Linked DNA regions of Homo sapiens: all the other regions are linked to region 1. Evidence: fine-mapped expression QTL. A gene starts in region 1. Each other region holds a variant in brackets. All regions are shown on one strand. Distances are between the middles of the regions.

The links. PIP is the estimated chance that this variant, and not a neighbour inherited with it, causes the effect.
Region 2: its variant is fine-mapped to the expression of PVR in whole blood (TOPMed, PIP above 0.99). The same link has a PIP of 0.9 or more in blood mononuclear cells.
Region 3: its variant is fine-mapped to the expression of PVR in unexposed skin (GTEx, PIP 0.92).
Region 4: its variant is fine-mapped to the expression of PVR in whole blood (TOPMed, PIP above 0.99).

The regions. Positions count from the first base shown.
Region 1 is chr19:44,640,306-44,646,242 of GRCh38, reverse strand. It overlaps PVR (PVR cell adhesion molecule), which reads right to left and starts at 2,333. Exons shown (of 8, transcript NM_006505.5): 1 at 2,068-2,333. The coding sequence starts at 2,146. RefSeq lists a silencer at 2,302-2,381.
Region 2 is chr19:44,550,789-44,556,725 of GRCh38, reverse strand. It overlaps the pseudogene CEACAM22P. Among named protein-coding and RNA genes, the nearest start is that of CEACAM20, 24 kb to the right of the region's middle. The variant C/A (reference allele first, on the strand shown) is at 2,731.
Region 3 is chr19:44,600,987-44,606,923 of GRCh38, reverse strand. No RefSeq gene overlaps it. Among named protein-coding and RNA genes, the nearest start is that of IGSF23, 9.6 kb to the left of the region's middle. The variant C/T (reference allele first, on the strand shown) is at 3,086.
Region 4 is chr19:44,615,683-44,621,619 of GRCh38, reverse strand. All of the region lies in intron 1 of IGSF23 (immunoglobulin superfamily member 23), which reads right to left. Among named protein-coding and RNA genes, the nearest start is that of IGSF23, 5.1 kb to the right of the region's middle. The variant G/A (reference allele first, on the strand shown) is at 2,785.

The DNA of each region.
Region 1 (5,937 bases):
TTTCTGCTGTGGAGCTTCAGGCCGGTTACTTAACCTCTCTGATTCTTTTTCCTAGTTTGTAAAATGAGACTTAGAACAGTGGACACTCACAGGGTGCTGACACAGATCAGGGGCTATTCTGGGTGCTTCACATATATCTTGGCATTTAATCCTCAAATAGCCCCCCTGAGGCAAGCACTACTGTTAACATCATTTTACAGACAGGGAAACTGACACAGAGTATAGTGTCCTCCAAGTCATACAGAGGTTTAGTGGCAGAGGTGGGATTTGAACTTGGGCGGTCAGAGACTGACCTCTAATCCCCCAGGTCCTATATAAAAATCTTTCTGCTAAGGGCCCTAGCACATAGTAGGTCCTCAAAATGTGACAGCGCTTATTGACACTAATAAACATGGTCCTATGCATTCTTTTTTATTTTTAAATTTTTATTTAGTTAATTATTTTTGTAGAGATGGGGTCTTGCCATATTGCCCAGGCTGGTTTTGAATTCCTAAGCTCAAGTGATCCTCCCACCACAGCCTCCCAAAGTGTTGGGATTACAGGCATGAGCCACTGTGCTTGGCTGCAACCAGCCTGGGCAGCATAGCGAAACCCTGTCTCTACCAAAAATACAAAAAAAATTAGCCAGGTGAGCACCTATAATCCCAGCTACTCCAGAAGCCACAGTGAGAGGATCGCTTGAGCCTGGGAAGTCGAGTTTGCAATGAGCCGGGATTGTACCACTGCACTCCAGCCTGGGCAACAAAGCAAGACCTTGTCTCTCTCATACACACACACACATACACGCACACACGCACTATATATATATATATATATATATATATATACACAAAACATATAAATAAATAATAAAATATGTTATCTATTTACTCTTTAAATGTATAATAAAATATATATTATTTATTATATAAATAATATATGTTATAAATATATAATATATTTAATATATATTTATTAAGAAATATATTATTATATATTATCAATTATATAATACATAATACATATTATATATTATAATAATATATATAATATATAATATACATATTATATATTATAATAATATATATAATATATAATATACATATTATATATTATAATAATATATATAATATATTATAATATATTATATATTACTATAATATATATTATATATTTTATTATATATTATATATTACTATAATATATATTATATATTTTATTATATATTATATATTACTATAATATATATTATATATTTTTATTATATATTACTATAATATGTAATATATAATAATAATATATAATATATATATTTATCAGGAGTTTGAGACCAGCCTGGCCAACATGGTGAAATCCTGTATCTACTAAAAATACAAAAATATTAGCCAGGCATAGTGGCACATGTCTGTAATCCGAGCTACTCGGGAGGCTGAAGCAGGAGAATCGCTTGAACTCGGGAGGAGGAGGCTGCAGTGAGCCGAGAGCAGGACACTGCACTCCAGCCTGGGTGATGGAGTGAGACTGTCTCAAAAAAAAAAAAAAAAGAATGAAAGAATGAATGAATGGCCAGGCCCCTGGAGTCAGACATTGGGGGTCAGAGGGGTAATGGTGTCAAGTGTCACCCACTGTCCTCCTCCCCAACATCAACCATCCCCTCCGTCCAGACCCAGCCTGCCAGCACGCTGCTGGGTTATGGCCTGGGTATGCTGAGCAGGAACCTGGGTAAGGTAATCCGGCATGCGTCACCATCTGCTGATTTTCCGGGATTCACTTGCCTTTTTGGGAAATTTCCTCACCCAACTCCATCCCCTTTCCGAGGGGCCCAGAGGAGGGTCTTGTGCCCGACCCGTGTTGCTGCCAATTTCGAGGAATTTCTGTACCCAACTCCGACCGCTCTCCGGGTGGCCAAGAGGAGGGTCCTGCCCTCGCACCCTCGCACCGTGTTCCTTCCAACCCCGGGGCAGAGATGGGGGGTGGGTGGCGCCGGGCGGGGCCGTCATCTTCGGGAACCCAAGGGGGCGAGTACCCGGCCTGGATGCGGAGCTGGGAGCCAGACAGGGGCCACCGGACTGCGCGGGGGTCACTCACCGGTTCCTGGGGGTGGCCAGGACAGCACCAGTAGCGCCACCAGCAGCAGCGGCCACGCGGCGGCCATGGCTCGGGCCATGCCAGTTGCTCCGAGCAGCTGGGCCTCCCGCGGGCGTCTCCTCGCTTCCCGGCGCCCGCTCGCTCTGCCGCGGTCGCTGCGAGTCCAGCTCCCGGAGCTCAGGTCCTGGAATCCCCGGGGGGCCGCTCCTCCAGTGCCTGGGGTGGGAAGGGGAATACCCACTTCTTCAAGCTCCAGACAAGTGACTGGAGCGGAGGGGAGTTGGCGGCCAGTCCCGCCAGGCGCGGGGTGGGCCACCCAGGCTGGCCCTCCCCGCGCGCCTGCGCCTGCGCAGGTCTCTCCCGGCGCTCAGTCCCGCTGCAGACGCGCGCTCGCTCCGTCGGTGCCCACTAGAAGAGGCGGCTTCCTGTGTGAGGTCGCCCACATTCCAGGTGAGGAAACGGAGGCACACGGAGAGATTCAGCAACTTACTAACGGCTCGCGGTTGCCGAGTGGCAGAGCTGAGGTTCCAACTCGTGATGGGACAGATCCTGAGCCCACCAGGCTGTCCTTCCACGCAGCCTAAACTTCCCATGGGCTTTGGGGTCAGACAAGACCAGGGCTCATGTTGGGCAAGTGGTTTCTCCTCGAGGGCCCTCAGATTCTTTATCTGAAAAATGGGCATAGTAGGGCGCGGTGGCTCAGGCCTGAATTCCAGCATTTTGGGAGGCTGAGGCAGGAGGACTGTGTGAACCCAGGAGTTAGAGGCTTCAGTGAGCTACCATTGCGCCACTACACTACAGCTTGGGTGGCAGAGCCAGACCTGTCTCAAAAAAAAAAAAAAAAGTTTGGGGGCTGGGGGAGCAAGCGCAGTGGCTGACGCCTGTAATCCCAGCACTTTGGGAGGCCGAGGCAGGAGGATCACCAGAGGTCCAGGAGTTCAAGACCAGCCTGGCCAACATGGCAAAAACCCATCTTTACTAAAAATACAAAAATTAGCCGGCATGGTGGCACATGCCTGTAATCCCAGCTACTGGGGAGGCTAAGACAGGAAAATCACTTGTACCCGGGAGGCAGAGGTTGCAGTGAGCCAAGATCGGGCCTCTGCACTCCAGCCTGGGCGACAGAGTGAGACTCTGTCTCAAAAAGAAAGAAAAAAGGGCATACTAACAGTACTTACCTCACAGCGTGGTCTGTAAAACTTAAACAAGAAACTGCCTAGCTCAATTTCGGGGATATAGTTTGTACTAAATAAAAAGCTGATATACCAACAATAGCAGCAGTGGCAGTGACAATTATTATTATTGTTGCTTTACAGTTGGCATCAAATAATAATGTTCATGAGAATGGTCATTCATTCATTCTTCATTCAGCATATATTTATTGATCCAGCCAGTATCCCAGGCACTGGGTATACAGCAGAAAATAAGACAGACAAAAATCTCTGCCTTTAATGAAGACCGTGTTCTAGTGGAGGGAAACAGACCATAAACAGATTAATACCAGAACTCCATCAGGTCTGGGGAAGATAAGGGTTATGGACCAGCCTGCAGTAGGGAGAGGGGAGGAGGGAGGGGGGAGAGAGAAAGAGAGAGAGAGAAAGAGAGAGAGAGAAAGAGAGAGAGAGAGAGAGAGAAATGAGAGAGAAACAGACACACTCAGAGATAAGGGCTGGGAGACAGAGACAGAGAGATTGAAAGAGATAGAGACACAGCATAGACAGAGGGAGATGAGAGAGAAATGAGAGGTGACAGAGAGACTCAGAGAGCCAAACCCTCAGAGACAGAAACTGAGAGACTTCCTGGTCCCCAGAGGTGGCTGTCCTGGCCAGGGTCTCCATGAGGCCGACTAACAGCTCTGGTCCCTGTGCTCTGACATCTTTATATGTTTTTTATTTTTATTATTATTTTTAGACAGGGTCTCACTATTTCACTGAGGCTGGAGTGAAGTGGCGCCATCATTGCTCATTGCAGCCTCCACCTCCTGGGCTCAACTCCTGCCTCAGCCTCCTGGGTAGTTGGGACCACAGGCATATGTGATCACACCCAGCTAGTTTTTAAATTTGTTGTAGAGATAGGATCTCGCTATGTTGCTCAGGCTGGCCTTGAATTCCTGGCCGCAAGCGATCCTCCCACCTCGGCCTCCCAAAGTGCTAGGATTGCAGGCATGAGCCACTGTGCCTGGCCCCACATTCCTGTATCTTTCTGTAAAATCCTTCCTTTGGCTTTTGGCTGGCTTGGAGGTTTCTGTCCCCGGGTGCCCTCTCTAACTTGGATCTGATGCTTGTGTATGACACATCTGATGCTTGGGGTCTCTCACCCTGGATGTATGTAGGTGAATTTCTAAATGGAAACAGGGAGGCTAGTCTCTTGGAAATCTCTGAATTTTCTGTCAGTGTTGTTTTGCTGAGTTATTTCCAAATTGGGAATCTGTGGCCATCGTTATGTTCCTCCTCTGGATGATGCTGTCACCATCTGGGATTCCCCCACTTCTCTGGGCTCCCAAGCTCCTGTGGCTCCAGGGACTCCTCTCAGGGCCCTGGAGGGTCAGAGGCTGCTCCGAAGAAGCAGGCTTAGAAGAAAAAGCAAGTTTGGTTCGGGGCATATCTGCTTGCTTCTGTGTGTTTCTCTGTCAAGAGTCTAAATTCCTTGAGTGTTTGGACCAGTTGTAGACATTTTCTTCACTCAAGTGCTGAAATATCATCTGATAAAATAGTGAATGGAGATCTCCAATGGGCATCTTATTTTTTGTGTGTGTTTGTTTGTTTTGAGACAGTCTTGCTCTGTCTCCCAAGCTGGAGTGCAATGGCGTGATCTCGGCTCACGGCAGCCTCCGCCTCCCAGGCTTAAGTGATTCTTGCGCCTCAGCCTCCCAAGTAGCTGGAATTACAGGCCTGCACCACCATACCCAGCTAATTTTTTTGTGTTTTTAGTAGAGATGGGGTTTCACCATGTTGGCCAGGCTGGTCTCGAACTCCTGAACTTAGGCGATCCACCCTCCTCAGCCTCCCAAAGTGCTGGGATTACAGGCGTGAGCCACCATGCCCAATGGGCATCCTCTTGATGCTGTGGTTTTCAAACTTCTGGATCCAAAAGGATCATCAGGAAGCTTGTGTAATTAAGCAAATATGAATCCATTTCCTTATTCTTCCCTCTCCCATTAAAAAATAAAATGGTAGCATTATTCTGTATCTTTCTGTTTTTCACTTAGCAACATATCTTGGTGATTTTCCCATAGGCAGATATATTGAGCTACCTCATTCATTCATTCACAAATGTGTACTATTCCATTACATGAATGCACCGTCATTTTTGAAACTGTCTTCAGGGGATGGGCTTTTTGGGTGTTTCCAGCCCTTTTGTACTTGCAAACTGTGCTTCCCTGGGTCATCATGTCCATGGCATTTCCCATGTATGTAACAGTATCTGTCATATTTATTCCCAGAAGCTGATTTGCTGGGCCAAAGGCCATGCACATTTGTGGTCTAGAGGATGTTGCCAAATTGCTGTCCAGCACTCATGCCAGCAAAGTAAGGTCGTGGAGTGGCTTCTACCCAGAAATGCTCACGGCAGTCAGGGAAGGTTTAAAATTTTCAGATATGCCCCCACCCCCTGTATTTCTACAAAAAATTAAAAAATTAGCCAGGTGTGGTGGCACATGCCCATAGTCCCAGCTACTTGGGAGGCTGAGGCTGGAGGATCCCTCAAGCCCAGGAGTTTGAGGCTGCCATGAGCCATGATTGCGCCACGGCCCTCCAGCCTCGGTGACAGAGTAAGACTCTGTCCACCCCAAAAAAGAAAATGTCAGATGTGAAGCTTTGTCCAGAAGGGTGTGATGTAGGAGGCCTGGGAGCAGGGGGAGAAAGAAAGACA
Region 2 (5,937 bases), 90 kb after region 1:
AAGGCCATGAAATGTAAATATACGTCTTCCTTTCAGTGGGTGTAATTTATTATTGACACACAGGACTTTTAGGACGACTGAATGATGAAAGAAGAGAAATTCTCGAAATGACTGAAAGAGAGTGGTGAGTACTTCCGCAACCCCTTCCATGAGTGTCTGTGCCTCTCTGATTTCTCTGAGTACAAGAGGATGCAAGCCCCAACTGAGGGCAGGCTGAAAATGTCAGAGAAATTAACATCCTGGGAGTGACCATTAACTAACACCAAGAAGGAATTGGTAGATATATTCCCCTGAACTTAGGGGGAACAACTCAGAGGTGGTTTTATTTTTTGTTGTTGTTGTTTTGTTTTGAGATGGAGTTTCGTTCTTGTTGCCCAAGTTGGAATGCAATGGCACGATCTTGGCTCACCGCAACCTCCGCCTCCCAGGTTCAAGTGATTCTCCCACCTCAGCCTCCTGAGTAGCTGGGATTACAGGCATGTGACAGCACGCCGGGCTAATTTTGTATTTTTAGTAGAGAGGGGGTTTCTCCATGTTGGTCAGGCTGGTCTCAAACTCCCGACCTCAGGTGATCTGCCTGCCTCAGCCTCCTAAAGTGCTGAGATTACAGGCGTGAGCCACTGCGCCCGGCCCTCAGAGGTGTGTTTTGTACCAGTTTTCAGAGGTGAGCTCCAGTTTTCTATAGAGCTAATTTTTCTATATGGCTTCCTTCTTTTCCCTTACTTACTTTCCCACACCTCTGCCAATGCTTTCTCCAAAATAAACTAATTGCACTAAGGTGTGGTGGCTCACGCCTGTAATCCCAGCACTTTGGGAGGCTGAGGCAGGTGGATCACGAGGTGAGTAGATCGAGACCATCCTGGCTAACATGGTGAAACCCTGTCTCTACTAAAAATACAAAAAATTAGCCTGGCGTGGTGGCAGGCGACAGTGCGAGACTCCATCTCCAAAAAAGTAAATAAATAAATAATAAACTAATTGCACTTACATTCTAGTGCAGAGTCTGATTCTGGGTGAACTAAGAGAGTGAATAACATTTACTATTTCAGTTTCTGTACCTCGATGTCCAAGTGTCCTCAACTGGGTTCTCTCACCAGGTCAAAATCAAGGTGTGATGTGAGTTGGCTGGGGTTTACCTGTAGGCTTTGGGAAAGAACCCATATCCAAGCTCATTCAGATGGTGGCAGAATCCTGGTTCTTTTTTTTTTTTTTTTTTTTTTTGAGATGGAGTCTCGCTCTGTCGCCCAGGCTGGAGTGCAGTGGGGCGATCTCGGCTCACTGCAAGCTCCGGCACCCACCAGCATGCCTGGCTAATTTTTTGTATTTTTAGTAGAGACGGGGTTTCACCATGTTAGCCAGGATGGTCTCGATCTACTGACCTCGTGATCCATCTGCCTCGGCCTCCCAAAGTGCTGGGATTACAGGAATGAGCCACTGTGCCTGGCCAGAATCCAGGTTCTTACAGTTGTAGGACTGAGGTCTGTTTCCTTGCTGGCTGTCATCTGCGGGTGCTCTAAGCTCTTGCAGGCCACTCTACCCTGCTCACACATTGACCCCTGCATCTTCAAAGACAGCAAGGATGCATTGAATCCTCCTTGTGTTTTGATTCTCTGACTTTCTCATCTGATCTGCTTTTAAAAGAGTCACCTGATCAGGTCAGGCCCACCCAGATGATCTGTATTTTAAGATCAGCTGACTTTGAGCTTTAATTACAAAATCCCTTCAAAGCAATACCTAGATTAGCATTTGATTGAACAATCAGGAACAGAAATCTGGAAGGACTATATTTAGAATCCTGATTACCACGCTGGCATTGGGGTTTACTCAGTTTCTTGATTCCATAGATGTATGTCTTTTACCAGATTTGGGAAACCAGCCATTATACCCACTTCCTCCTTTCCTTCTGGGTCTCCAATGACATGAATGTTGGCTCTTTTGTTAAAGTCCCACAGGTCCCAAAGTTCTGTTCTTCACTTCTTATCAGTCTATTTTCTTTCTGTTGTTCAGATTTGGTAACTTTTATCTGCACTGATTTTTATCTCTGTCATCTCCATTCTGCAGCTGGGCTCAAACATTAAGTTTTTAAAAAATTTCTGTTATTGTGCTTTTCCATTCTAAAATTTCCGTCTTGTTCTTTTTCATATCTTCTATTTCTTTGCTGAGACTTTCTGGTTTTTCACTTATTTCAAGTGTTTGTAATTGTTCATTGAAGCATTTTTATGTTGGCTGCTCTAAGATTCTTTTAAGACAATTCTAACATCAGTGTAGTGAATTCTTACAATTTTATAGAAACTCAGTATCAATTTTTGAAATGTTATTGTTTTGAGACAGGGTCGCACTCTGTCACCCAGGCTGGAGTGCAGTGGTGCAATCACGGCTCACTGCAGCCTCGAGCTCCTGGGCTCAAGTGAACCTCTCATCTCAGTCCCCCAAGTAGCTGGGACTATAGGCGTATGCCACCACACCCAGCTAATTTTTTGAAATTTTATTTGTAGAGACGGAGGTCTCACTGTGTTGCCCAGGCTGGTCTCAAACTCCTGAGCTCAAGCAATCCTCTTGCCTCAGCCTCCCAAAGTGTTGGGATTACAGATGTGAGCCACTGTGCCTGGCTCAGTATCTATTTTGAATATAAGTTGGACTTTCTCATACCATAAGAAAAGCTTAGTCACCCTTGACACAGTTTCCAGGTCTCCGCCTCCCCCCAGATCCTTAATGTGGCAGATCCAGATA[C/A]CTGCCTTACACTACCACTTCCTGTTAACCACCTCCTTATGCAACAGCTAGATATAACTCACCTGACTGTCCCCCTGACCCCCAGACCCTGCATAGGCTGTGCAGATATGCCACAGTGATCACCTCCCAGTCAGTGTGACTCCATGCAACTTGTGCCTGCTGGCTCTAAACCCAGTTAGAATTCTCTGTGGAAAACTGCCTGAGCAGTTTCCTTAGACTCCAATAAAAGCATCAGCCCACAGGTCTCTCACTTTCTCTTTCTTGCTCCCCACCCGCTGGTTGAGTGTGCGTGTCCCGACAACTCTCTTCTTCCTGTTGGCTCTGTGAGATGTGCTGCTCTGTCTTCTCCGGAATCTGTGAGTAATAAACTGCCCCTGTTATTTCATGTGTTTTGTTGTGCTGCCTCCTCTGTGTCTCACCTGACTGACACATCCAAACCTAACGTCTTTCCTGGTCAGGGCTGTCCTAAAGCATGGCTCTCTTTGTAGAAATAAACTGGACACAGGTCAGACAAAAGCCTTAAGAATGTCTGCCATTATAAACAAGTGTACTGTGGCCAGGTGTGATGGCTCATGCCTGTGATCCCAGCACTATGGGAGGTTGGGGTGGGAGGATCCCATGAGGCTAGGAGTTCAAGATCAGCCTGGCCAACATGGTGAAACCCCGTCTGTACTTAAAAAAAAAAAAAAATTAGTTGGGTGTAGTGGCATATGTCTGTAATCCCACCTACTCAGGAGGCTGAGGCATGAGAATTGCTTGAACCTGGGAGGTGGAGGTTGCAGTGAGCCAAGACCATACCACTGCGCTCCGACCTGGGTGACAGAGTGAGACTCTGTCTCAAAAACAAACAAACACACAAAAAATAAGTGTACTGTGAGAGGGACACCTGGTCACAGGTCAGACATGTAGGCATTAGGCCGACCACCAAGATAAAGAAGTAACCAGTGAAAATTACACTTTAAACATCTACAACTAAATCCCCTAGAAAACTCAAGACCAAGTTAGAAAACATCAACAACAATCCATGTCATCTCTATTAATTGTCTTTCCTCATTTAATTTCAGGAATGTCTTTCTCATTCAGTCAATTTTTTTTTTTTTTTTGTAGAGATGGGGTCTCACTATGTTGCCCACGCTGGTCTCGAACTTCTGAGCTCAAGCAATTCTCCCACCTCGGCCTCCCAAAGTATTGGGATTACATGTAGGTGTATGACAAGTGATTTTCAACAACACCCTGGACATTTTGGAAATTATGAGACGCTGGATCTCATTTAAATCTTCTGTTATAGCAGGTCTCCTCTGACATCTTGCTGGTGGGGCAAAAAGGGCACCATCTTGTTATAGCCAGTGGGGATGGAGGTCCAGGTTCCCCATTTGGCCTCTGTTGACATTCCAGGTGGGGCGGGGCAACTGTTACTCTGGGCAGTTAGCAGAGTTCAGGCTTTCCACTGAGACATCCTCTGATACCATCTTGCCCAGAAGGGGCAGAGACGCCTCGTTACCGCTCCCTAGTGGCCTCAATGGACACTGCAGGGTCGGTGCTCATTACTGCTGGGCAAGGATGACAGTCCCAGCTGCTTATTCAGCCTGGTGGAGGGGATGGGTGTCTCTGTACAGCTGGCAAGGGTAAATGTCCAGGCTTTTCTGTGGGATATCACAGCAGCAAAGTGATTATCTTGTAAAGATTTGCTGTCTTTAGCAAATCTTGTCAGGCTACTGCTCCTTGTCCTTTGGCTAGAGCAGGCTTTGCTTGAGCCTCTTTTGGATCTACACTCATTGGCATTTCTAGATTGCCAGGCTCTCCAGCTCCCAGTCTGGGATCTGTGAGGCGCAAAGAAAGTCCAGAAAACTCACCACCATGTGCTTTCTCCGGTCTTGAGATCCGCAGCCAGTCTGCCATATTCTCTCCTCCTTTCCGAGTCATCTATTTTTATTTATTTATTTATTTATTTATTTATTTATTTATTTATTCATTCTTTAGCTGCACCTGTGATAGACTGCTTGATATTATTCCCATAGAACAATGATGTTCTGTTCATATTTTTGAGGCTTTTTCTCTATTGCTTTATTTTATTTTATTTATTTTTCCATAGATTATTGGGGTACAGGTCGGTTTGGTTACATGAGTAAGTTCTTTGGGGGTGATTTGTGAGATTTTGGTGCACCCATCACCTGAGCGGTATACACTCCACCCTATTTGTAGTCTTTCATCCCTCACTCCCCTCCCACTCTTCACCCCAAGTCCCCAAAGTCCATTGTATCATTCTTACGCTTTTGTGTCCTCATAGCTTAGCTCCCACATATCAGTGAGAACATATGATGTTTGGTTTTCCATTCCTGAGTTACTTCACTTAGAATAATAGTCTCCAGTCTCATCCAGGTCATTGCAAATGTTGTTAATTCATTCCTTTTTATGACCGAGTAGTATTCCATCATTCATATATATATATATATATATATATATATATATGAACATATATATGAACGTATATATGAACATATATATGAATGTATATATGAACGTATATATGAACGTATATATGAACGTATATATGAACGTATATATGAACGTGTATATATGAACGTATATATGAACGTATATATATGAACGTATATATATGAACGTATATATATGAACGTATATATATGAACGTATATATGAACGTATATATATGAACGTATATATGAACGCGTATATATGAACGTATATATGAACGCGTATATATGAACGCGTATATATGAACGCGTATATATGAACGCGTATATATGAACGTATATATGAACGCGTATATATGAACGCATATATATGAACGCATATATATGAACGCATATATGAACGTATATATAAACGCATATATGAACGTATATATATGAACGTATATATGAACGTATATATATGAACGCATATATGAACGTATATATATGAACGCATATATGAACGTATATATATGAACGCATATATGAACGCATATATGAACGTATATATATGAACGTATATATGAACGTATATATGAACGTATATATGAACATATATATATGAACGTATATATGAACATATATATATATATCACAGTTTCTTTATCCACTTGTTGATTGATGGGTATTTGGGTTGGTGCCACGATTTTGCAATTGTGAATTGTGCTGCTATAAACATGCGTGTGCGAGTATCTTTTTTGTGTAATGACTTCTTTTCCTCTGGGTAGATACC
Region 3 (5,937 bases), 39 kb after region 1:
CAGGCTGGAGTGCAATGGCGCGATCTCGGCTCACTGAAAGCTCCGCCTCCCGGGTTCACGCCATTCTCCTGCCTCAGCCTCCCAAGTAGCTGGGACTACAGGTGCCCGCCACCACGCCCAGGTAATTTTTTGTATTTGTAGTAGAGATGGTGTTTCACCGTGTTAGCCAGGATGGTGTCGATCTCCTGACCTCGTGATCTGCTCACCTCAGCCTCCCAAAGTGCTGGGATTACAGGCGTGAGCCACCGCGCCCAGCCAACCTTGGGATTTTGTAGACAGAAAAGTGTATTGCAAGGCTGTCAAGCAAGGAGATAGGAGTCAGGCTCAAATATATCTCCCTGAGCTAGGGGTTGGGACAGGTTTTATAGTCCCAAGGGTAATGAGGCATGATCTGATTGGATCTTGCCTTATTGTGAACATTTCCCAAACCTCAGTGTTTCTCGTACTACATTTGTAATTATTTGCAGGGAGGCATGATCTGATTGGATCTTGTAATGAGGTGATGTGGGGAGGCATGATTTGATTGGACCGTGCCCTGGGGTGATGCCAGGGCTCAATGTGATTGGATCCTGGATCCCGCCATGCAGTGTCCACTTCTTAATTCAATCCTCACTTCCCAGTCTGAGTACTTGGGTTTCAGTCAAGGTTGCACGTTTGGTTCACCTGGGCATGCTTAGGTTATGGACCTTCAACCTGGGAGTCCGTGGCAACTGAAAAACAACTTACAGCTTTGTTACATAAAAGTTGAATCAGATTGGTCTGGTGTGGTTACAAATGCCCCTATATTTCCCAGTCGAAGGCATCCCCTGCCCCTCCTAGAGGTTTTGGAAATCTCTTCCTACAATTTGATTTTGTGTGTGTGTGTGGAGATGGGATCTCATTTTGTTGCTCAGGCTGGTTTTGAACTCAGGGCCTCAAGTAATCCTCCCACCTCAGCCTCCCAAAGCACCGGGATTATAGGCATGAGCCACTGTGCCCAGCCCATCTTCCTACAGTTTGGTTGTCACAATGCCTGAGGATGAAACAGTAGTGACATTTATTGGGCAAAACCTCCTGCAATAATAGGTGGGACTGTCCCATACAACAGAAACTTGTCTCAGCTAAAATATTAATACTGCCCCAGTTAGAAATCTGAAGTTGGAATAAAACTTTTGGCTTTTGTCCCCTGCTATGAGTTTGATGAGTCTGGGAGAAGAAAATGAGCTTACTTGGCTCAGATCCTCTCCTCCCATTTTTGGATTTACCTGTCTCCAGAACGACTACAGTTTGGTCTGCTTCCTCCTACTATGTGATAATGTACCTGCCTTAGCAGAGGAAGCAACTATTGGGGTTGTAAATATATATGGCAGAGAAGCTAGTGGTGCCTCCCCAATCTACGAGTCCTTTCATAGTTAGAGGAGTTTAAGTTTGGCCAATGGTTGCCTGGAATAAAGACTAAATTTCCCAGCCTTCCTTGCAGCAGCTGTAGTCACGTGAGCATGTTCTGGTGAATGGTATGTGAACAGAAGAGTTGTGTGCCATTTCTGGGTCATGCCCTTCAATAAAGTTCTCCCTTTCTTGTTTTCCCTACCTTCAGGTGGAAGTGGGGACATGCTGGGGGATCTGGGAACAAGTGTGCGACACGCTAGGGGCCCTGGGAACAAGCGTGTCGATGAAAACCCTCTAAAATATATACATTTTTTGAGACAGAGTCTTGCTCTGTCACCCAGGCTGGACTGTAGTGGCACAATCTTGGATCACTGCAACCTCCGCCTCCTAGGTTCAAGCAATTCTCGTGCCTCAGCTTCCCGAGTAGCTGGGATTGCAGGGGTGTACCACAACGCCCAGCTAAGTTTTTTGTATTTTTAGTAGAGACAGGGTTTCACCATGTTGGCCAGTCTGGTCTCGAACTCCTGACCTCAGGTGATCTGCCCACCTTGGCCTCCCAAAGTGCTGGGATTACAGGCATGAGCCACTGTGCCTGGCCCTGTAAAATATTTTAAGAGATTTATTCTGAGCTAAATATGAGTGACCATAGCCCATGACACAGCCCTCAGGTGACCCTGAAAACATATGGCCAAGATGTTTGGGGTGTAGCTTTGTTTTATACATTTTAGGGAGACACGAGACATCAATCAAAACATTTAAGATATACATCGGTTCAGTCCAGAAAGGTGGGATAACTGAAAGTGGTGGGGGAGGGGCTTCCATATAGGTCGATTGAAAAATTTTTCTATTGGCAATTGGTTGAAAGAGTTATTATCAATAGAAAGGACTGTCTGAGTTATGATAAGAGGTTGTGGAGACCAGAGTTTTATGATGCAAATGAAGCCTCCAGGTAGCAGCCTTCAGAGAGAATGGATTGTAAATGTTTCTTATCAGACTTCAGGTCTGTGTCGATGTTAAATGCTGGTCTGTTTTTCCTGAACTCCAAAAGGGATGCGGCCATAATGAAGCACTCATACAGGAGCTAGAAAGAAATTGTTTAGGCAGATAGTAAGGGCAACAGAGTCTGTGGTGGAATTTCCCTTTTAACAAAAAGCCGCCCCAAAGTCACGTCTTTTATACAAAGAGCATCCTGAAAAACTGAGCTGTAAACATAGATAACCAAAGTAGTGGCTCGCTTGGGTGAATGCCGGCAGCTGTGCCAATAGAATAGGGCTACCTGGAGGCCAGGTATGTTCAACATGGAGGCTTTATCCTCCCTTTTCTTTGTCACCACATGTACAGTAAAAAAAAAGCAGGCAACATGGCACAGGCCAGGTAGACAGCCCATCTGCATAATAAAAGATTGGGGTGGGGTGGCCAGCTTTTTCAGGAGCTATGCAAAAGGCACACCTAACCCTAACCAGCTCTTTGCATGCTATACAAATGGCACACCTGGTTCGACCAATATTTTGTGCCCTATGTAAATCAGACACTGCCTTTTCAAACTCATCTATAAAACCTCCTGCACTTCACCATGGACCGGAAAACCCTCTTGGGACCCCCCTCTCTCTGCAGAAGACAGCAAAATTTTCTCTTTATTTCACCTATTAAACCTCTGCTCCTAACCTCACTCCTTGTGGGTCCACATCCTTGATTTCATTGGCTTGAGGCAACGAAT[C/T]TCGGGTATTACCCAAGACGAACAACCCTGCTTCAGCACATCCAACCCCAACCCCCATCCCACCCGTCATGGGCTGAACCAGTCTTTCAGGTTAAATTTGGAGTGGCCTGGCCAAGGAGGGAGTCCGTTCAGATGGTTTAGGTGTGTGGTAGGTGGCGGCTTTGAGTTGTATTTTTGGTTTACAAGCTCAGCATCATAGGGATAGCAGAGAACAAGATGGAAGAGCACAGACTCATGATACCCTCACAAAGCAGAACTGCATACCAGCTAGGACTGTTACAGGAGAGAGAAATTCATTTCTATGGAATTTAAGCCATTGCTATTTTTAATCTATCACCAGCATCCAAACTTACATCCTATGTTGATATTTAGATTGGAGGCGACAGGAAGCAAAGGAGGTGATGACAAACCCATTGGGCTACACAGCTTGGCCACATTCCCTGATATTGCGTATTGCTTAGGAAATACTGATGACATGCTGATCTGTCTCTCTCTCTCAGTTGGTTCTGACTTCTGGCCAGGACTAAGGATGTCATTTGTTGATGAAAAAAGCTAAACTCTAAAATATTTGAAAATATTTATTCTTAGCCAAATGTGAGGACCATGACCTATGACACAGCTTCAGGAAATCCTGAGAATGTGTGCCCCAGATGGTTGGATTACAGCTTGATTTTGTACATTTTAGGGGGACAGAAGTTACAGGCAGACATCAGTCAGTACACGTAAGGTATACGCTGATTCAGCCCAGAAAGGTGGGACAACTTGAAGTGGGGCAGAGGGGTTACAGGTCATAAATGGATTCAAAGATTTTCTGATTGGCAATTGGTTGAAAGAGTTAAGTTATCATCTCAAGACCTGGAATCAATAGAAAGGAATGTCTGGGATAAGATAAGTTGTTGTGGAGACTAAGGTTCTTTTTTTTTTTTTTTTTTTTTTTGAGACAGAGTCTTGCTCTGTTGCCCAGGCTGGAGTGCAGTGGCGTGATTGCGATCTCGGCTCACTGCAACCTCTGCCTCCCAGGTTCAAGCAATTCTCCTGCCTCAGCCTCTTGAGTAGCTGGGATTACAGGCACCCGCCACCAATGTCTGGCTAATTTTTTATATTTTTAGTAGAGATGGGGTTTTGCCATTTTGGCCAGGCTGGTCTCGAACTCCTGACCTCAAGTGATCTGCCTGCCTTGGCCTCCAAAAGTGTTGGGATTACAAACGTAAGCCACCACACCCGTTTAGATTTTTTTTGAGATACCACTGAAACAGTGTCATTGCCTGGGGTAAATACCCGAGATTCGCTGTCTCACAGCCACAGAAAACTAGGACATGGACCACCAGAGTAAGATTAAGAGGGGAAGTTTAATAGGTGAAAGAAAGAGAAGAGCTCTCTGCACAGAGAGGGGTTCTGGAGAAAATAGGTTGCCACTTTGGCAGTGAAATGCAGAAGGTTTTATAGATGAGATTGAGGAGGCTGTGTCTGATTTACATAGGACACGAAAGATTGGTCGGACCAGGTGTGCCATTTGCATAGCACATGATGAACTGGTTAGGACTAAGTGTGCCGTTTGCATAGCGCGCAAAGAAGCTGGCTGCCCCACCCAGCTTCATTATGCAGATGGGTTGTCTACCTGGCCAGTGCCATGTTGCCTGCTTTTTTTTTTTTAACCGCACATGTGGTAACAAACAAAAGGGAAGATGGAGCCTCCAGGTTGAACATACCTGGCTTCCAGGTAGCCCTTTTCTATTGGCACAGCTGCCAGCATTCACCCATGCAAGCTTCCAGCTTGCTTATCTATGTCTGCAGCTCAATTTTTCAGGCTGCTCTTTGTTTAGAAAAGAAATGATTTTGGGGCTGCTTTTTGTTAAAGAGGAATTCCACCAAGGACTCTGTTGCTCTTACTATCTGCCTAAATAATTTCTTTCTATCTTCTGTATCATCACCAGTGTGTTTTGAGAGGCTCTTGCCTGTGTGAATTCAGCAAGCCCTGCAGAGGTCTGGAGCCGACAATTCCAGTTAGCAGCAACAGCAGCAGCTTTTTGATTCCCCACCTGCCTGTGATGGTGGAGACAGCAGCTCCTCTGATGGGTCACTTTCGCAGCTTCAGATCATCGTGGGGTACTAATGGAGTCAGAGTCCTTTCTCTTTTCCATCATAGAACAGTCAGATGTCTTTCCCAGGGATGGATCTGTCCCCTTCGCCTTCTGAGAAATTGAATTAGGCCAGGTGCAGGGGCTCACACCTGTAATCCTAGTGCTTTGGGAGGCCAAGGTGGGAGGATTGCTTGAGGCCAGGAGTTCCTGACCAGCCTGGGCAACATAGTGAGACTCCATCTATTTTTTTAAAAAGTTAGCTAGGCAGTTAGCTAGTGCCTGTAGTTCCAGCTACCAGGAGGCTGAGGTGGGAGGATTGCTTTAGCCCATGAGTTCCGGGCTGCCGTGAGTTACGGTTCCTGTCACTGCACTCCAGTCCCAGCCATTCCCAGGAGACAGAGTGAGACCCTGTCTTTAAAAAAATAAAAAAAGTAAAAAACAACAAAAAAAAGAATTTAAGTTAATTCAATCTTCAATCAAATCAGAAGCACATGAATGTCCTAACACCAGACTGACCCCTGAAATATCTTAGGAAACACAAGTGCAATAGTATTCCAAATGAAAGCAATTTTCTCATCTTGCTGTTTTCAGCCACCATCCATATATCAGCATGAAGGAAAATATTCATTTAAATGAGACAAGACTGTTACATTATCTATATGTTTTAATAAAAATTTCTAGCAGAGTCCTGGGTGGTCTTTTTAGCTCTATGAGGGTAGGGGAAGGGAGAATGGCCAATGAAAACTCATAATTCTTTGTACTTTTTAGGAA
Region 4 (5,937 bases), 25 kb after region 1:
GGTCTTGTTCTGTCACTCAGGCTGGAGTGTAGTGGTGCAATCATAGCTTACTGCAACCTCCACCTCCCGGGCTCAAAGTCTCCTCCAGAGTAGTTGGGATTACAGGCGTGCGCCACTACATCCAGCTATTTTTTGTAGAGATGGGGTCTCACCATGTTGCCCAGGCTGGTCTTGAACTCCCGGGCTCAAGTGATCCACCCACCTTGTCCTCCCAAAGTGCTGGGGTTAAAGGTGTAAGCCACCGTGCCGGCCTTATTCCCATTTTGATGAGAAAAGGAAGGCTCAAAGAAGTCAAGTCCTTTGAAACAAACAGGGCTATTTTTTTTTTTTTTTTTTTGAGACAGGGTCTTGCTGTGTCCCCCAGGCTGGAGTGCAGTGGCAAGGTTACAGCTCACTGCAGCCTCAACCTCCCGGGCTCAAGGGATCCTTCCATCTCAGCCTCCTGAGTAGCTGGGACTATGGGCGCACATCACCAGGCTTGGCTAATTTTTAAATTCTTTGTTGAGATGGGCGTCTCATCATGTTGCCCAGGCTGGTCTCGAACTTCTGAGCTCAAGCAATCCTCTCACCTCGGCCTCCCAAACTGCTGGGATTACAGGTGTGAGCCATAGCACCTGGCCAGGGCTAACATTTACTTGCTCTTTGTCAGGCATTGTTGTAGGCATTTAGCACTGATTAACTCACTTACTCCTCACAGTCACCCTATGAGGTAGGTTCCACTATGACCTCATTGCACAGATGGGGAAACTGAAGTGCAAAACAGAAAGTTACTTTTTTGCAGGGACTCAGGGGCATAACAGATGCCAGAGGGATTTGATCCAGGGAGTTCTGGCCACACAGCCTGCACCACCGAGCGTGAGTTCCTGCAACCTCTCTCTTTAGAAAGGGCCCTTCGGACTGAGAATGGCATAGGCGAAGGTGTGGAGCCAGGCCTTTAGAAGAATTAGCCTTCAGGCCGGGCCCGGTGGCTCACGCCTGTAATCCCAGCACTTTGGGAGGCCAAGGCAGGTGGATAACCTGAGGTCAGGAATTTGAGACCAGCCTGGCCAACATGGTGAAACCCTGTCTCTACTAAAAATATAAAAATTAGCCGGGCGTGGTGGCGGGCGCCTGTGATCCCAGCTACTCAGGAGGCTGAGGCAGGAGACTCGCTTGAACCCGGGTGGTGGAGGTTGTAGTGAGCCGAGATCGCACCACTTCACTCCAGCCTGGGCGACAGAGCGAGGCTCCATCTCACACACACACACACACACACACACACACACACACACACACACAAAATTAGTCATCAAATCACAGAAATACAGATGGATGAACCTCAGCGGTCCATAAATTCTCTGGGAGGGGAGTAAAAACCCCTCTGTGCAGAAGTGGGGTTCTAAGTGTGCAGTGGCATGGTCTTGGCTCATTGCAACCTCCGACTCCCAGGTTCAAGCGATTCTACTTCCTCAGTCTCCTGAATAGCTAGGATTACAGGCGCCTGCCACTATGCCCGGCTAATTTTTGTATTTTTAATAAATACGGGGTTTCACCATGTTGGTCAGGCTGGTCTTGAACTCCTGAACTCGTGATCTGCCCGCCTTGGCCTCCCAAAATGCTGGGATTACAGGCGTGAGCCACTGCGCCTGGCCGACACTGGAACTTTTTGAGTCTTTGTTAGAGCATCAGAATCTGAACCCTAACTAAGTTGATCTCTGTTATGAACTGAATTGAGTCCCCCACCAAACATATATGTTGAAACCCTAACCCCCAGTACCTCAGAATGTGACCGTATTTGGAGATAAGGTCTTTAACGAGGTGATTAAGTTAGAATGAAGTTGTTAGGGTGGGTCCTAATCCAACCTGACTGGTGCCCTTATAAGAAGAGGAAGTTTGGACACACAGAGAGACACCAGGGATGTGCACACACAGAAGAAAGACCATGCAAGGACAGAATGAGAAGGCACCCTTCCGCAAGTCAAAAAAGAGAGGCCTCAGAGGAGATGAAACCTGCCAGCAGCTTCATCTTGCAATCCATCCTTCAGAACTGTGAGGGAATAAGTTTCTGTTGATTAAGCCTAGAGTATTTTGCCCGAGCCGACTAGGACAGTCTCTGGACTATCTTCTAAAAGGAGGATGGGTCTGGTTACTCTCAGGGCTTTGTTTTCCTAATTCAGATATGAAAGTTTGAGTCCAGGTGATAAAAATATAGATGAGGTTGAAGGCTGCTACCAGACCTTCTCTACCTTTCCCAAGTGATGATGAATGCGTATCTCATGAATGTCTGTTGCAAGTCTTGGCTGTTATAATGTGGATATTTATCCCTGCCAAAATCTCATGTTGAAATGCGATCCCCAGTGTTGGTGGTGGGGCCTCAGTAAAGGTGTTTGGGCCACAGGGGCGGATCCCTTATGGCTTGACGCTGTCCTCATGGTAGTGAGTTCTCATGAGATCTGATTGTTGTAAAATGTGGCACTTCCTCTCTGACTCTCTCTTTCTCTTGCTCCTGTTCTCACGGGAGACACCTGCTCCTCCTTTGCCTTCGCTATGATTAAAAGCTCCCTGAGGGCTCCTTAGAAGCTGAGCAGATGCTGGCATTACACTTCCACCTGTGGAACCATGAGCCAATCAAACGTCTTCTTCTTTTTTTTTTTTTTTTAAATAAATAACCCAGTCTCAGGTATGTCTTTATAGCAATGGAAGAACAATCTAACACAACGACAAAAAATAGCCACAACACATTGCAACTCCTCTCCTTAAGAGGTGGGGCCTTTTTCCTTCCTGTTGAAGCTGGGCTGGCCATGT[G/A]ACTTGCTTTGACCAATAGAAGGTGGCAGAAGTGATGGTGGTCAGTTTTGAGCCTGGGCCTGAAGGAGTTTTGCAGCTTTACCTCTTGTTCCTCTTCCATTGCTGAGTGAACAAGCCTGGGATAGCCTGCTGGAGGTTGGGAGGCTATGTGGCCCACTCATCCCCATCACTCCAGCCACCAGCTGGTCCATGGCCAGGCACATGAAGGAGGTCATTCTGGACCAGCCAACACCCAGACACCCCAACAGCTGAACACAACAACTGTCCAGCTAGATAAGTGATTGATGTTTTAAGTTTTGGGGTGGTTTATTGGGGAGCAATGGATAACCAGCATGCAAAGTGTCCTGGTGGGCTCTTCTGAGGTCCAGTGGGTCTGCTTTCTGAGAAGTCAGCCCCTCCCACTGCGGGGCCCCACTCACTCTTGACATGGATCTGCTCCGTCACACTCCTGTGTCCCCTGCTGGTTTCCAGCACGACGGTGTAGCTGCCCGAGTCCTGAGCCGTCATTTTCTAATGACCAGGCTGCCTTGGGTTCCCAGCATCTCCCGGCCAGTGTGAGCAGGTCCTGGGAGGCCCTTCGGGGAGAATATCATGGCTGCTGGCTGGGCGTCATACCCTCAGAACCAAGACGTGGTGAGAATGCCTTCAAGCCTTCCGGGGACAGGAAGATGGACACTGGCTCCTTCGGTCAAGGTGTTCAGCTGTGCCGAGAAGGGCAGCTCTGAGAAGGCAGAGCAGGTGCAGGATGTGAGCAGGGCGCCTTGGAAGAGCAGGGAAGGAGGAGGAATCATTGATTCCTCTCCTTGACCCCTTGAAGCACGCACGTATATTATACTGGATGTTGCAAAAATTGGTTTTCTACCCTTCTCTGCTCCACTCTGCTGCCTGAAAGGCTGACTTCTCTGAGCTGTGTTGTTGGGGTCCCCTTACCTTTTGCTGCTGGTTGGTTTCTGTCAGTGGGCACGTTGGCAGAAGAGGAGAGGGCAGCGGGGGAGTAAGCTTGAAGGGATTAGTCCTACAGTTGGCTGGGTCCTTCTGTTCCAGCCCACAGCTCCTGTTGAGTGTCTCTCTCCATATACTACTAATGTCTTCTGGTTCTGGGATCTGCTTTGCTCCATTTACTCCTACCCAACCCCTCACCCAACATTTTCTCACCACCTTATTTAGAAATAATAAAGGGTTATAAATCAATGTGAATGGTACATTTTTAAAGGGTGACATAATGTTTGTTCTGGACACTGATTAAGTTATAACCTTGCCACTATTTTTTCTTTTTAAAATTAACAAATACAAATTGTGTATATTTATGGTGTACAATGTGATGTTTTAAAATACATATACATTGTGGAATGGCTAAATTGAGCTAATTAACATATGCATTACCTCATGTACTTATTTTTTTTGTGGTGAGAACACATAAAATCTACTTTCTTAGCCAATAATTTACTCATTTAAAGCGTACAATTCAAGAGCTTTTAGTATACTCACAGAATTGGGCAACCATCACCTCAAGCAATTTAAGGACATTTTCGTCACCCCAAAAAGAATCCCTGCGTCTCTTGGGCACCACACCTAATCCTTTCACTCCTGATAGGCATTTTTTTTTTTTTTTTAATATAAGAGTAGGCCGGTGTGTTGGCTCATACCTGTAATCCTGCACTTTGCGGGGGCGGGGGGAGGGGTGGGGCAAGGCTGGAAGATTACTTGAGCCAGAAGTTCAAGACTAGCCTGGGCAACTGAGTGAGGCCCTGTCTCTACAAAAATAAAAAATTCGCTGGGCATGGTGGCACGCGCCTGTAGTCCCAGCTACTCAGGAGGCTGAGGTGGGAAGATTCCTCAAGTCCAGGAGTTTGAGGTTTCAGTGAGCTATGATCCTGCCACTGCACTGCAGCCTGGGTGACAGAGCAAGACCTTTCTCCCTCTCTCTCTCTCTCTTTTTCTCTCTCTCCCTCTCTCTCTCTACATATATGGTATTACTCATATATACTCATATATATATATTTATTTATTTCCATTTTTATAGCAGAAAACTTAGACTCCTAGAAATAAACACTATGTTTTGGAAACTTTTACTGTTTTTTTTTTTCAAGCTTTATGCTTGTTATTGTTTCTATTTCCTTCTTCTTTTTTTTTTTTTTTTGAGATGGAGTCTCGCTCTGTCGCCAGGCTGGAGTGCAGTGGTGCAATCTCGGCTCACTGCAAGCTCCACCTCCCGGGTTCAAGTGATTCCCCTGCCTCAGCCTCCCGAGTAGTTGGGACTACAGGCGTGCGCCACCACGCCCAGCTAATTTTTTTGTATTTTAGTAGAGACAGGGTTTCACCATGTCGGCCAGGATGGTCTCAATCTCCTGACCTTGTGATCCGCCTGCCTGGGCCTCCCAAAGTGCTGGGATTACAGGTGTGAGCCACCACGCCTGGCTGTTTCTATTTCTTTTAAACAAAAAGTAGAATTATGTTCAGCAATTCTTACAAGGCATCACAAAAAACAACGTCTGCTCCTCATTATAGAATAATTTGGAAAGTAAAGTAAAAAGCAGTAAAACAAATCCTTAAGCCTAATACTCAGATAACCACTTTGGGGAGTATATTTTCTTTGAAGGTTTTTCATAATTTTTAAAATTAATTTTTAATCACTCAAGAGCTTCTCCTTAGGAAAAAAAAGTAGACCCATATAAAGCCAAATATCCCTTTGACCTCCACCCCTACGCTTGTCCTGGTCACACTCTCGAGGTACCTGCTGTTATCAAGAGAACATTTTGTATTTACAGAGTTGAAGTTCGTTGCACTGTGGCTTTGTTTTCCTTTGGACAATGTTTTGTAAGCTCCCCCAGCTCACTTTGCAAACATGTTGTAAACCACTTTCTAAAAACTGGTTGCTGTTTTATCCAGTGGCACAGCCAATTTCCAAAGTACCCCACCCTCCCGCCCCCAGGAAGATCCAGCAACACACAGCATGCCGTGTTTCCATCACAAAACTACAGCAGCCTAGGAGAAACTTTCCAATCTCCTTTTCTTTCCTTCCTCCCCTCTGCCCTCCGCCCTGAGAGAGGCCTCAGACAACAGCTCTGACAAAATAGGGAAGAGGCCCACCACGTCCCTTTCCTCCTTCCAGTGTGACACCTGCCTGAGCTGGGGACAGAGCAAAGCTTTGAA